Linked DNA regions of Homo sapiens: region 2 is linked to region 1. The links come from fine-mapping of genetic effects on gene expression. Tissue or cell type: skeletal muscle. Region 1 holds a variant in brackets; the other region holds the start of a gene. All regions are shown on one strand. Distances are from middle to middle.

Region 1 (5,358 bases):
AGGAGAAGCCAGTTTCCTTCTGAGCCAACCTCATCTCATTGCCTAATAGATCACACTGTTAACGATGTGGGACGACATTTACTTAGGCCTCTGCCACACAGAAGCAGGGACTGAGTTGAGGCACATTTTGAAGAGAGGGGATTCAGCTGATTTTAAAATTCACAGTCACGGAGAGTGTAATTTAGTGACTATAGTTTAATAATAAATGTTTAGGATGACCCCAAATTGCATTATTATGTTCAGTCCAAATTTATATGTGGCTCTGGAAGAGTCACTTAAATGTGCTTTGAGAAATTTGGTGCATTGAAAGACACTATCAACAGAGTAAAAAGGCAACTCACAGAATGGGAGAAAACATTTGCTTATCATACATCCAGTAAGGGATTGATATCCAGAATATATAAATGTATAAAGAACTCCTAAAACTCAACAACAACAAAAAAGCAAAAACAACCCAATTCAAAAGTGGGCAAAGGACTTGAATGAATATTTCCCCAAAGAAGATTTATAAATGACCAGTAAGCACGTGATAGGGTATTCAACAGCACTATTAGGAAAATCAAAACTACCGTGAGGTACCACCTCACACATTAGGATGCTACTATTTTAAAACAGAAAACAACAAATGTTGGCAAGGATGTGGAGAAATTGGAAGCTCTGTGCATAGTTGGTGAGAATGTAACATAGTATCGCTGCTGCAGAAAACACTATGGCCATTCTTCAAGAAATTAAGAATAGAATTAACATGTGATTCAGGAATTGTATTTCTGAGTATATACCCAAAAGAACTGAAAGTAGGGTATGGAAGAGATATTTCTACATTCATGTTCACAGCAACATTATTCATGATAGCGAAAATCATGAGAGCAACCTAAGTGTTCATTAGTAGATGAACATATAAATGAAGAATGATATGTGCATACAATGGAGTATTATTCAGCCTTAGAAAGAAGCAATTTCTGACATGCCACACATCAGTGAACCTTGAGGATATTATTCTAAGTGAAATAAGATAACCACAAAAAGACAAATACTGCATGATTCCACCTATGTAAAGAATAAGGCCAGTGCACAAAGTTGTGGCAAAGTTGTCAGTATTAACATTGTAAATCAAGTGTGTGTGAAGGGGTGCTCACCTTAGCTCCCTTCTAGATATTTTGAGATTCTAAAGTCAAGAAATCTATCTCATGTAGTGAAAGAATTCCTTACCGTTATATTGTCACAGAGCATCATTAGTAGGAGCAAATTGTTCCTAAAATAATTCTACAACTAATAAATTTGGATGCTCATAGAGTAGGTCTTAGTAGTACCTACATATAGCTATATTGATGATATTAAAATATTAATTATCTAAAATTTAGTAACTAGCATTTATATCACTTATTATGAGTCAGGTACTGTTCTAAATGCTTTTCATTTATTTCCACATTTAATCTACAACAGCTCTGCTGAAGTAGATCCCATAATTATCCCCATTTACAGATGGAGAAATTTAGGCAGAAATAGTTTAAGTAACATATCCAAAGTCACACAGCTAATGTTAGGCCACATTAAGATTCCAACCCAGGCTTTGGAGTTCGCCTTTTAACCCTGTGCTTGGCCCCGTCACAACTCCTACGTTACCAGAATGCTTACAGTCTAATAAATATTGGGTAGGGGACTCCTACTAACATAGCTATGTGTGACAAGTAGAAGTCCCTGTGTGTATCCAAGGTTACTCTTACAACCTCTCTCTGCCAATGCACAACTTTGCACCAAAATTTCATCATGAGGACTCCTTTTCAGAGCACCCCAGAATTGAGCAAGACATGCTAAACTGGCTTCTTCACCCCCTCACCCCATGTCAGCTTCCCAACCAAGAGGAGTAAGGACAAAGTTGCAAGGCTGCAAGTATAATTTGTCTCGGTTCCTATTATTCCTTTCAGGATTATGATGCCAGAGCAGCTTCAGCTGTTCTGCTGTCTGATTCATGGCCAATACCAGTTCTAACAGGTCTAACCCAAAGAGTCAGCCAGATAGGACAGGGAGAGCAACGGCCACTGTGAGATGTCTGGAAGGCGAGCACAGCTCTAGAAAAGGCATTAGCTACATTTCCATGGGGTTTTGCTCCTGGATAAAGCAGGTCACAAGGGAAACCTAGATGTGGAATCTGCAAAAGGGCAATTAAAATGTTCAGTCTTTGTCCTTGGTCAGGCTGTGATTTTAGGCCAGTCATCAAACCTGGGGCTAGTTATATAGGAAATACTTATTGAAGCTGGCAATGTGAAAGAGTCTCCATTAAGTCCGGCCTTTTTGTATATACAGTAGAAGCTTTGAAGTCAGACAGACATGAGTTTGAATTCCAGCTCTGCCAGTTTTTATCTATACTACTTTGTATATGCCTCTCATTTAGGAATTTTTTTTTTTTTTTTTTTGATGGAGTCTGGCTCTTTCACCCAGGCTGGAGCGAAGTGGTGCAACTCAACCACTTCACAGTGAACGGGGGACGGTTCACTGCAACCTCCGCCCCCCGGGTTCAAGCAATTCTCCTGCCTCAGCCTCCTGAGTAGCTGGGATTACAGGCGTCCACCACCATGTCTGGCTAATTTTTGTATTTTTAAGAGATGGGGTTTAAATGTTCTTATTTCTAAATTGGAGATAATAAAACTTCATCCAGGTCACATATAATAGGTCTGAAACATGCTAATTCATTGCCCAGGATGCTGTAAGCATTCAGAATCTAGGTGTCAGCATCACCACCACACATATATTTCCATTCTTCTAAATGTACAGGGAAGCCCTGTGGCAGTTTTGTCTTGAGATCATTCAACATATTTATATTTCTCCCACAGATACTATGATAAGAAATACCAAGTATTCCTGAAGCTGGTTGAACACCAGAAGGAGTATTTGGCGATCATGAATGATGACTGAACAGGGCTTGCAGGTGCTGATGCCAGAAGCTTCTGTGCCATTGCATTAAAGAC[T/TTC]TGTCATTTGATCCATGTTCAAGACCCTTGAGGTATTGTTTCATCATTTCTGTATTGTCTTTCAATAAAGAAAACAAACATGTGCAACCAGAATTAGAGTCTTCATTTCAAAATACCGCTATTATTTAGTTTCAGTTTCCATACAGTCTCCATTATAGTAACAGAAGTTTCACATAGGGTCATAGGATCTCACATGAGACTAGACCTTGGGGGCTATTCAATCCAGGGAAGGCCTGTACTTTTTTTTTTTTTTTTTTGAGACGGAGTCTCGCTCTATCGCCCAGGCTGGAGTTCAGTGGAGCGATCTCGGCTCACTGCAAACCCCGCCTCCCAGGTTCACACCATTCTCCTGCCTCAGCCTCCTGAGTAGCTGGGACTACAGGCGCCCGCCACCGCGCCTGGCTAATTTTTTGTATTTTTAGTAGAGACAGGGTTTCACCATGTTAGCCAGGATGGTCTCGATCTCCTGACCTCGTGATCTTTCCGCCTCGGCCTCCCAAAGTGCTGAGATTACAGGCATGAGCCACTGCGCCCGGCCAGGCCTGTACTTTTTAATCAATTAAATGTCAGCTATTAAATGAAAAACTTACATTACTTTAGGTAGGACATCTAATGCATAGTCGATGTCTTTTATGGCATTTTCCCCTCCTGTGCAGGATCTAGTCTAGGGTCAGATACCACATTTATTTGCAGAATTGTAATTTCACAATCATCATATTAAAGACAGGTATAGGCAGGAATCATCGATGGATCCAGGAGGGAATTTTGAAGAATAACAGGATATATGCATAATCTTAAAATATCTCTTCAGAATTTGCTTATTAGTTACAAGAGGAAAAAGAACGTTAAGTATACAGGGAAGAAATAGGACAACATCTTGATTAGGTGATCCAAATCAACTTCAGATGGGCAAATGGACATTGTGTGCCTCCAGATATGAGAAAAGAAAGAGCATTTTAATGCAGAGCCTGAATCTAATCAGAAGGAAACATCAGACAAACGCAACATGGGAAGCATTTTATTTTTTAATGGACTATATTTTTCAAAAATATCTATGTCATACTGACAAAGAAAGGCTGTGGGAAGTTTCCAGATTAAAGGAAACTGAAGAAACCTGATGGCTAAAAGCTTTTGATGTAGACAAGCACTGGGAAAACTAGCTGTTTTAGTTGATACCACAGCAGACACACAAACGCACACAGACATACACATACATATACATACATAAATATGTCAACACCCACACATAATTTCAGACCCAAGAGTAACTGCTAACGTTGATTTGAGAGCTGTCATAGCTCAAATGAGTGTGGGTAGAGGACATGCTAAGACTTCAGCAAAAGACAGCAGGTAGAGAAGAAAAAGCCAATATAATTCAGTAAATAAACATCCTCTGGAGTACTTTGTGCCACATGTTGTGGTAAGCACTGGTCTACAGGAATAAATAAGACATGGCCCCTGCCTTCAGGAACCTCCCTGTTTAATGAGAGACATAGACAAATAGATTGATGACAGTACATTATGAGAAATGCTACAATTACAAAAAAAAAAGTACCTGCTGCATGGAGCCCATCAGTCAGAAAAGGAGGAAGGAGAAGGTGGGATGAAAAACAATATGGTGTAACAGCTATGAGCCCTGGCCTGGGATCCTAGGCCTGGTCTTACCTCTTACTAGATGGGTGACTTGGAGAAAGGTCCTTAATCTTCCTAAGTCTCAGTTTCCTCATTTTGAAATGAATAGGTATTGAATATGAATATGTTTTTTTTGTTGTTGTTGTTGTTGGTTTTTTTGTTTTTGTTTTTGTTTTTGTTTTTTTGAGACGAAGTCTTGCTCTCGCCCAGGTTGGAGTGCAGTGGCTTGATCTCTGCTCACTGCAAGCTCCACCTTCCAGGTTCACGCCATTCTCCTGCCTCAGCCTCCCGAGTAGCTGGGACTACAGGCACCCGCCACCACGCCCAGCTAATTTTTTGTATTTTTAGTAGAGACGGGGGTTTCACCATGTTAGCCAGGATGGTCTCGATCTCCTGACCTCGTGATCCGCCCGCCTCGGCCTCCCAAAGTGCTGGGATTACAGGCGTGAGCCACCGCACCTGGCCTGAATATGTTAATAGTACCTACTTTACAGGATTATAATGAGGACTAAAGGAGATAATGCATATAAAGCACTCGGCTCAATTGCATGGTCCATGCCTGTGTTATTACAGGGCTCTGCTCCTAGAAGATGCTCAAAATAGTAACTGTAGTAAGCATGGAGAAGGGTGAGCACCCCAGTTATGAAGGTCAGCTCTGCAATAGCATTCTACAGTATCCAAAGGATATAGGGACCTTAGGCATAGCCCCGAGTGAAGGTGGGTGTGCGTGTCTGATCTAGCTGGCCTAAAAGCAGAAGGA
Region 2 (5,328 bases), 52 kb after region 1:
CATACATTTATTTATTTATTTATTCAAGGTAATGACGGGTTCTCTCTATGTTGCCCAGGCTGATCTCAAACTCCTGGACTCAAGTGATCCTCCCACCACCTCAGCCTCCCAAAGTGCCGGCATTACAGGCTTGAGCCATTGCACCTGGCCCATATATTTATGTATATGTTGGGATCTATGCTGTATGCACAGATTGCATAATGGCTTTTTTTCTTAACATTATGTGATAAGCATTTTCCTGAATAAACTTATTTTAAAATATTTTAATGCCTATGATACATTTCATTGTTTAAATATAACTTACTGTGTTTAATCACTTCTCTTTCAGACATTTAATAGCTGTTTCTTTTCCTTTTTGCTTGATAAATAGTACTGCAATCAACAACTTTGTTGGCATATGATTATTTTCTTAGAATAGATTCTGAAAGTGAACTTACTGGCTTAAAGACTTTGAACATTTTAAAGGCTCTTGATATATATTGTCAAAAAACTTTGTACCCATTTATAATCCCACAGCTAGGGTTTAAGAGTTAGTTTCACTCAACTCCCCAAACATGGATGCCAACTTCTAAAGAACTGATGCCAATTTAATAGTTGGAAATGATAACTTATGTTGTATTTGGCATTTCTTCTAAAGTCTTTTTTTCTGATTATAAAGTAATATAAGCTAATTGTAGAAAGCCTAGAAAATATGGAAGATTAGAAAAATAGTCATTTTTCATTTGTATATAAATATAACAACAGTTTTATGATTATTCCTTTGTCTTCTTCCTGTGTATATATTAAAATACATACCTAATATTTATAATATTGAGGTCATATGGCTGATACTTTCATCTAAATTTTATTTAATAGTATACATTGTGACAACTTTCCTGAGTTATCAAATATTCTCCAGAGCACTGAATCTGCTGTAAAATATTTAGCCTTCCTTGCTTATTGGGCATTGTATCAATCGATTATACAATTGATCAATACATAGCATTGCCATACATATCATTGTTCAAAGCCTCCAAATGCACTTCTGATGATTTCAACAGAATTTATGACTGACGCAGAATAAATTGGAATCATGGGTTTAAATGATATGGATATTTTAAAGTTTCTTGATAAAAATTGTTAAATTTTTCCTTCCCTGATAATTTACTCTCTATAAAGTCCAGAAGCATAACTTAATTGCCCCCCCCACCAAGTTACTCTCACGAATTATTTTATTTGAGAAATTTGGTCACTTGTGGCTCTCAGTGATAAATATGTTGAGAAGTTTCCCATATGTATAGATGATAATAGTAACTCATATTTACAAAGTTTATAATTTACATTTACCATGTATGTTTACATTTTAATTACAATGATCTTAGGAATGTGGAGGTTGGGGGCTATAGGAGAGCAGCCAGTGGGGAATAAAGTCAAGATTCAGACCAGGTCTTCAATTCCTAAATCTTGTAGTTTTAATTAAATCACATTACCAATGTACCTAGTTCCAGCATATAAAGTGACTCCAGAGGCGTTAAGAAAGTTCTGGAATAATGTTAAGGGAGTCAATAGCAAACGTACATACTGTATTTTTAGAATGAGACTGATTTACACTTGGGGGCTTTTAATTGCAGTCGTCCATCAGTTTTAAATTTTCAGTGTCTAAATATAAAAACGCAGCAATATAAAAAAAAGCCAGCTGTTTTCTTACTCAGAGCATGAATTGATGAGTTTATGAATGAGTGAAGTGACAGCAAGACTAAGAATAGTCTAGCCCTTTTCAATCACCTAAGCCATCTATCAATACCTTGGAGAGCTTCCAATTTCAGGTCACCTCCCCCGACCCCCCTCCACCCCACAACATTCTCGGAAAAAGCAAATTTTCAACTGACAAAGGAAAATGGATACATTAATATCTTCCATGTTTTTCAAAACATTTCGTTTATTTTGCTACTTGAAAACGGTCTTCCCTTTTGCCCCATGTAAAATAAAATTGCTCATGATCTATGGTCCCGTGAGAGCTTATTTAAGGAGCACTGACGGATTCTATTTTCCTTATTAATGTGGCATATTTGCCACGTGTGCAAATGAAAACATCCCTTTCCAATGAGTGCCTAGGAGGAAATCAGCTCTTCCTTCCTCGAAGAGTTTTAATTCATGGGTATGATCTATTTCTTTCTTTCTTTATTTTGTTTTATATATTTTTTAGAGACAGAGTCTCGGTTTTTTGTCCAGGCTGGGGTGCAGTGGCATGATCTCGGCTCACTGCAACCTGTGCCTCCCGGGTTCAAGCGATTCTTCTGCCTCAGCCTCCTGAGTAGCTGGGATTACAGTCATGTGCCACCACCCCCGGCTAATCTTTGTATTTTTAGTAGAGAATGGGTTTCGCCATCTTGGCCTGGCGGGTCTCGAACTCCTGACCTCAGGTGATCCACCCGCCTCAGCCTCCCAAAGTGCTAGGATTACAGGCGTGAGCCACCTCGCCCAGCCGGTAGGATCTATTTCTGAAGACAATGTGGAAGCAGAGTGTGGGCCCTCCACAGGTGTAGCGAGGCGGCGTGCTACCGCGAAGAAGGAGGGAAGACGCCTGAGCCCAGCCGGTGCCCTGCTGCCCCTCTGCCTCTTCGGCCACTGGGGCTGAGCTTCAGCCTTACCAATCCCCGCCGCGCACGCGCGCTCGCTTCCCGCGCGCAACCTCCCACCCCCGCCCTCACTGCACCTGCCAGGTCATAAACCTCTTCCCACCCACTCTCACTCTCTACCCAAGGCTCAGGCTTGTCTCACGTTGATTGGCCAGAGCCCACGAGGGCACGTCCAATCAGCAATCCCCCCTGCGCAACCTATCCCGGTTCTTCCCGCCCCCGCCCCGCCCCGCCCGCCCCCCCGGGTACCTACCGTCTCTGTGACTGGTGCGCGGCCAGGTCACTCAGGGCGGCGGGGCGAGGTGTGCGGGAGTGGGCAGGACGGGTGGGAGGAGGGGAGGGGTGGGAGAAGGCGGGGCTCAGGTGCCTGGCAGCGCGGCCGGGGCCCAGGAAGGGGAGGGGGCGAACGCTGGAGCGAGGCGGGGGCGGGTGAGGAGGGGGTGACGCCGGACGCGTCGACAGCGCGAGGGTTCGCGCGTGAGCTGCGCGGGTCGGGCCTGGTACCGAGCTTTCCTGGGGGCTAGCAGGTCGTGGACGCCGGCTCCTGGAGGAGAGCCGGTAGGAGGGAGTGTGAAGGTGTCCGCGGCGTCGTCGACGGCGGCGCCGGCCATGGAGGAGACGCAGCCGCCGCCGCAGCCTAAGCTGCCCCTGTGCGACAGCCTCATGATCTGGGTGAGTGCGAGGAGGCGAGAGGGCGAGGGGGCCAGGGGGCCGAGGCGAGGAGCCTGGGGCGCCCGGTTCTCCCAGGTGAGCTGGGGCTACCTGCACAGGGTCCCGGCGCACCCTGCCCTTCTCACCTCGTGCCCTTGACCGAGAGAATGCCACCTGCGGGTCGACGGGCAGGTGTGTGGGCGCGGGTTGGTGTCCGGGGGTGGGGGTAAAGGAAGCTCTGGGAGCGTAACAGTGGAGGCTCTGGTCTCAACCAGAGGATTCGACCTGCCTGGTGCCCTAACAGCTGGGATATGAACCAAGCACCCATCCTCTTTTCTCCCCGCTGCCCCATTTTCTCCCCCTGAACAGCGCCCGAGCCCTCCACTTTCTGGATCGCCGACTCTCTTGCCTTGGTCCGCTTGGGCGTGAAGACCCTTTCCGAAACCTAACCCTGCATCCTCAAACTACCTTGCTCTACCTGGACACAGGTGGCCAGGAGGTGGCTGGCTGTTTTAGTTCCCGGACCAATGCTCCTTCAGGACTCTAGAACATCCGATTTTGTAGAAGCCGCTTCAAAGAGATGTTTGTATTTCCCGTATGGAGAAAAAGATGTGTTGGGAGTCGGGGGTCGTTTTCCCTTTTTCTCGCTGGCCCTCTCCTCCTCTAAATGGACAGCATTTTCTTTAAAGAAAATGAGTTGACATTTTTCTTTAGGATTTATCTGTGTTTAGGATTTTTGTTAATTTGTGTTGGGTCTGGACAGGCATATCTGTCCCCAGATTGTTCAATATTCCAGTCAGCAAAATGACATCCCACCTCTTAGAGTTACTTAGATATCAGTGCTGGCATTCAGGTGTGGTTCTTAACCCATATTGAGTAAAGATGGTGTTTGATGAGCCACAAGGTGCTGTTGATGATGCTCATCCCAAACCAGTTGTTTAGTTGCGTCTAGGGGAGTGTGTGCAGATGGAATGTAAACAGACGGGATCAGGAGGCTGTAATCGGTTGAGATTCCCTAGTGATCTAATGCATCTAATTCCAAAGAATGAGAAATCTAGGTTTATGGAAATGTGTGAAGCCTATTGGAAATAGCCATAATTTAAAGCATTTACACTTTGTAAGTAAATAACTTTTGCTTTTAGTGGAATGCAAATATTTAGGGTTTGTGAGTTAAAAGCAATTAGCTAACTGTTCAGCTGAATTTTCATTTGAAATAGGTATTGGGGTGGAAGTGCTGTATTTAAGACTGTCGTAGAAACAAGGCAACATTACTTTTAATGATTTGTTTTGTTAAAACAGACTAATTAAAGGGTGTATCCGAATCTGCTACATTATTGTAAACCTCAATTGACTGAAGTGTTAAGCTTAGTCTTTATGATGTCATTGATTTACATGTGAGGTGGTGGAGAAGCACAGGATTTTCTTTTGTGTTGTAATATTTTAAAATATTATGTGACTGTATCCACTCTTTTAACCAGAATTTATTGACTTCCAATGTTGAGCTAGGCACTGGGGAGGACTGGAGTGGTAGCCAGAGCTGTGTGTAATTACAGTGGAAGGTAAAATTCCGTAAAAGCTGCAAATATGTTGTAAACCAAATGATAAGGAATCACAGATAACAGAGTAAAATTGGTCGTTTTCTTCAGTCCTCTCTTGGGCTGCTGAGCACTGTGGAGAAAATTGAATGACCGTGCAAACTGTTGCCTCTACTAATGCTGTTACTGTCAAACGCACCTTTTCTCCTAACATTGCCCATACTTAAGAATAACCAGACAGTTTCTCTCACATTCCTCTTAGCAAACCTTTATCAGTATTCTACCTGAGCCCCCAACTCTTATTCCTCTGGGGCAAATGACCACCTCCTTATCCTTGGCTCTGGCTTTAGACTCCATCCCTTCCACCTCTTTTAAAACGTTATTGTATCATTTGTTCCCTTTCTGTATTTACAACTACTTTCTCTCCATTGGCTCCTTTCTCTGTATGTATAAACTTGCTGAAGTATTCCCCTTTTTTAACAGAGAACAAAGAGCCACTATTCCGTGTTAAAGTCATACTGTAT

Alleles and levels. Positions count from the first base shown, and alleles are read on the strand shown. Sizes are in standard deviations (SD) of each study's normalised expression.
With allele T in place of TTC in region 1, the expression in skeletal muscle of the gene that starts at base 3,059 in region 2 is lower (small effect, 0.34 SD a copy in GTEx).

The links. PIP is the estimated chance that this variant, and not a neighbour inherited with it, causes the effect.
Region 2: HOOK1 starts here. The variant in region 1 is fine-mapped to the expression of HOOK1 in skeletal muscle (GTEx, PIP 0.99). The same link has a PIP of 0.9 or more in tibial nerve.

The regions. Positions count from the first base shown.
Region 1 is chr1:59,759,672-59,765,029 of GRCh38, forward strand. FGGY (FGGY carbohydrate kinase domain containing) reads left to right here. Exons shown (of 16, transcript NM_018291.5): 16 at 2,832-3,059. The coding sequence ends at 2,913. Among named protein-coding and RNA genes, the nearest start is that of MIR4711, 29 kb to the left of the region's middle. RefSeq lists an enhancer at 3,082-3,131. The variant T/TTC (reference allele first, on the strand shown) is at 2,967.
Region 2 is chr1:59,811,891-59,817,218 of GRCh38, forward strand. It overlaps HOOK1 (hook microtubule tethering protein 1), which reads left to right and starts at 3,059. Exons shown (of 22, transcript NM_015888.6): 1 at 3,059-3,290. The coding sequence starts at 3,228. It overlaps LOC105378758 (a long non-coding RNA gene), which reads right to left and starts at 2,976. Exons shown (of 5, transcript XR_947426.3): 1 at 2,872-2,976. RefSeq lists a silencer at 2,527-3,126 and an enhancer at 3,363-3,926.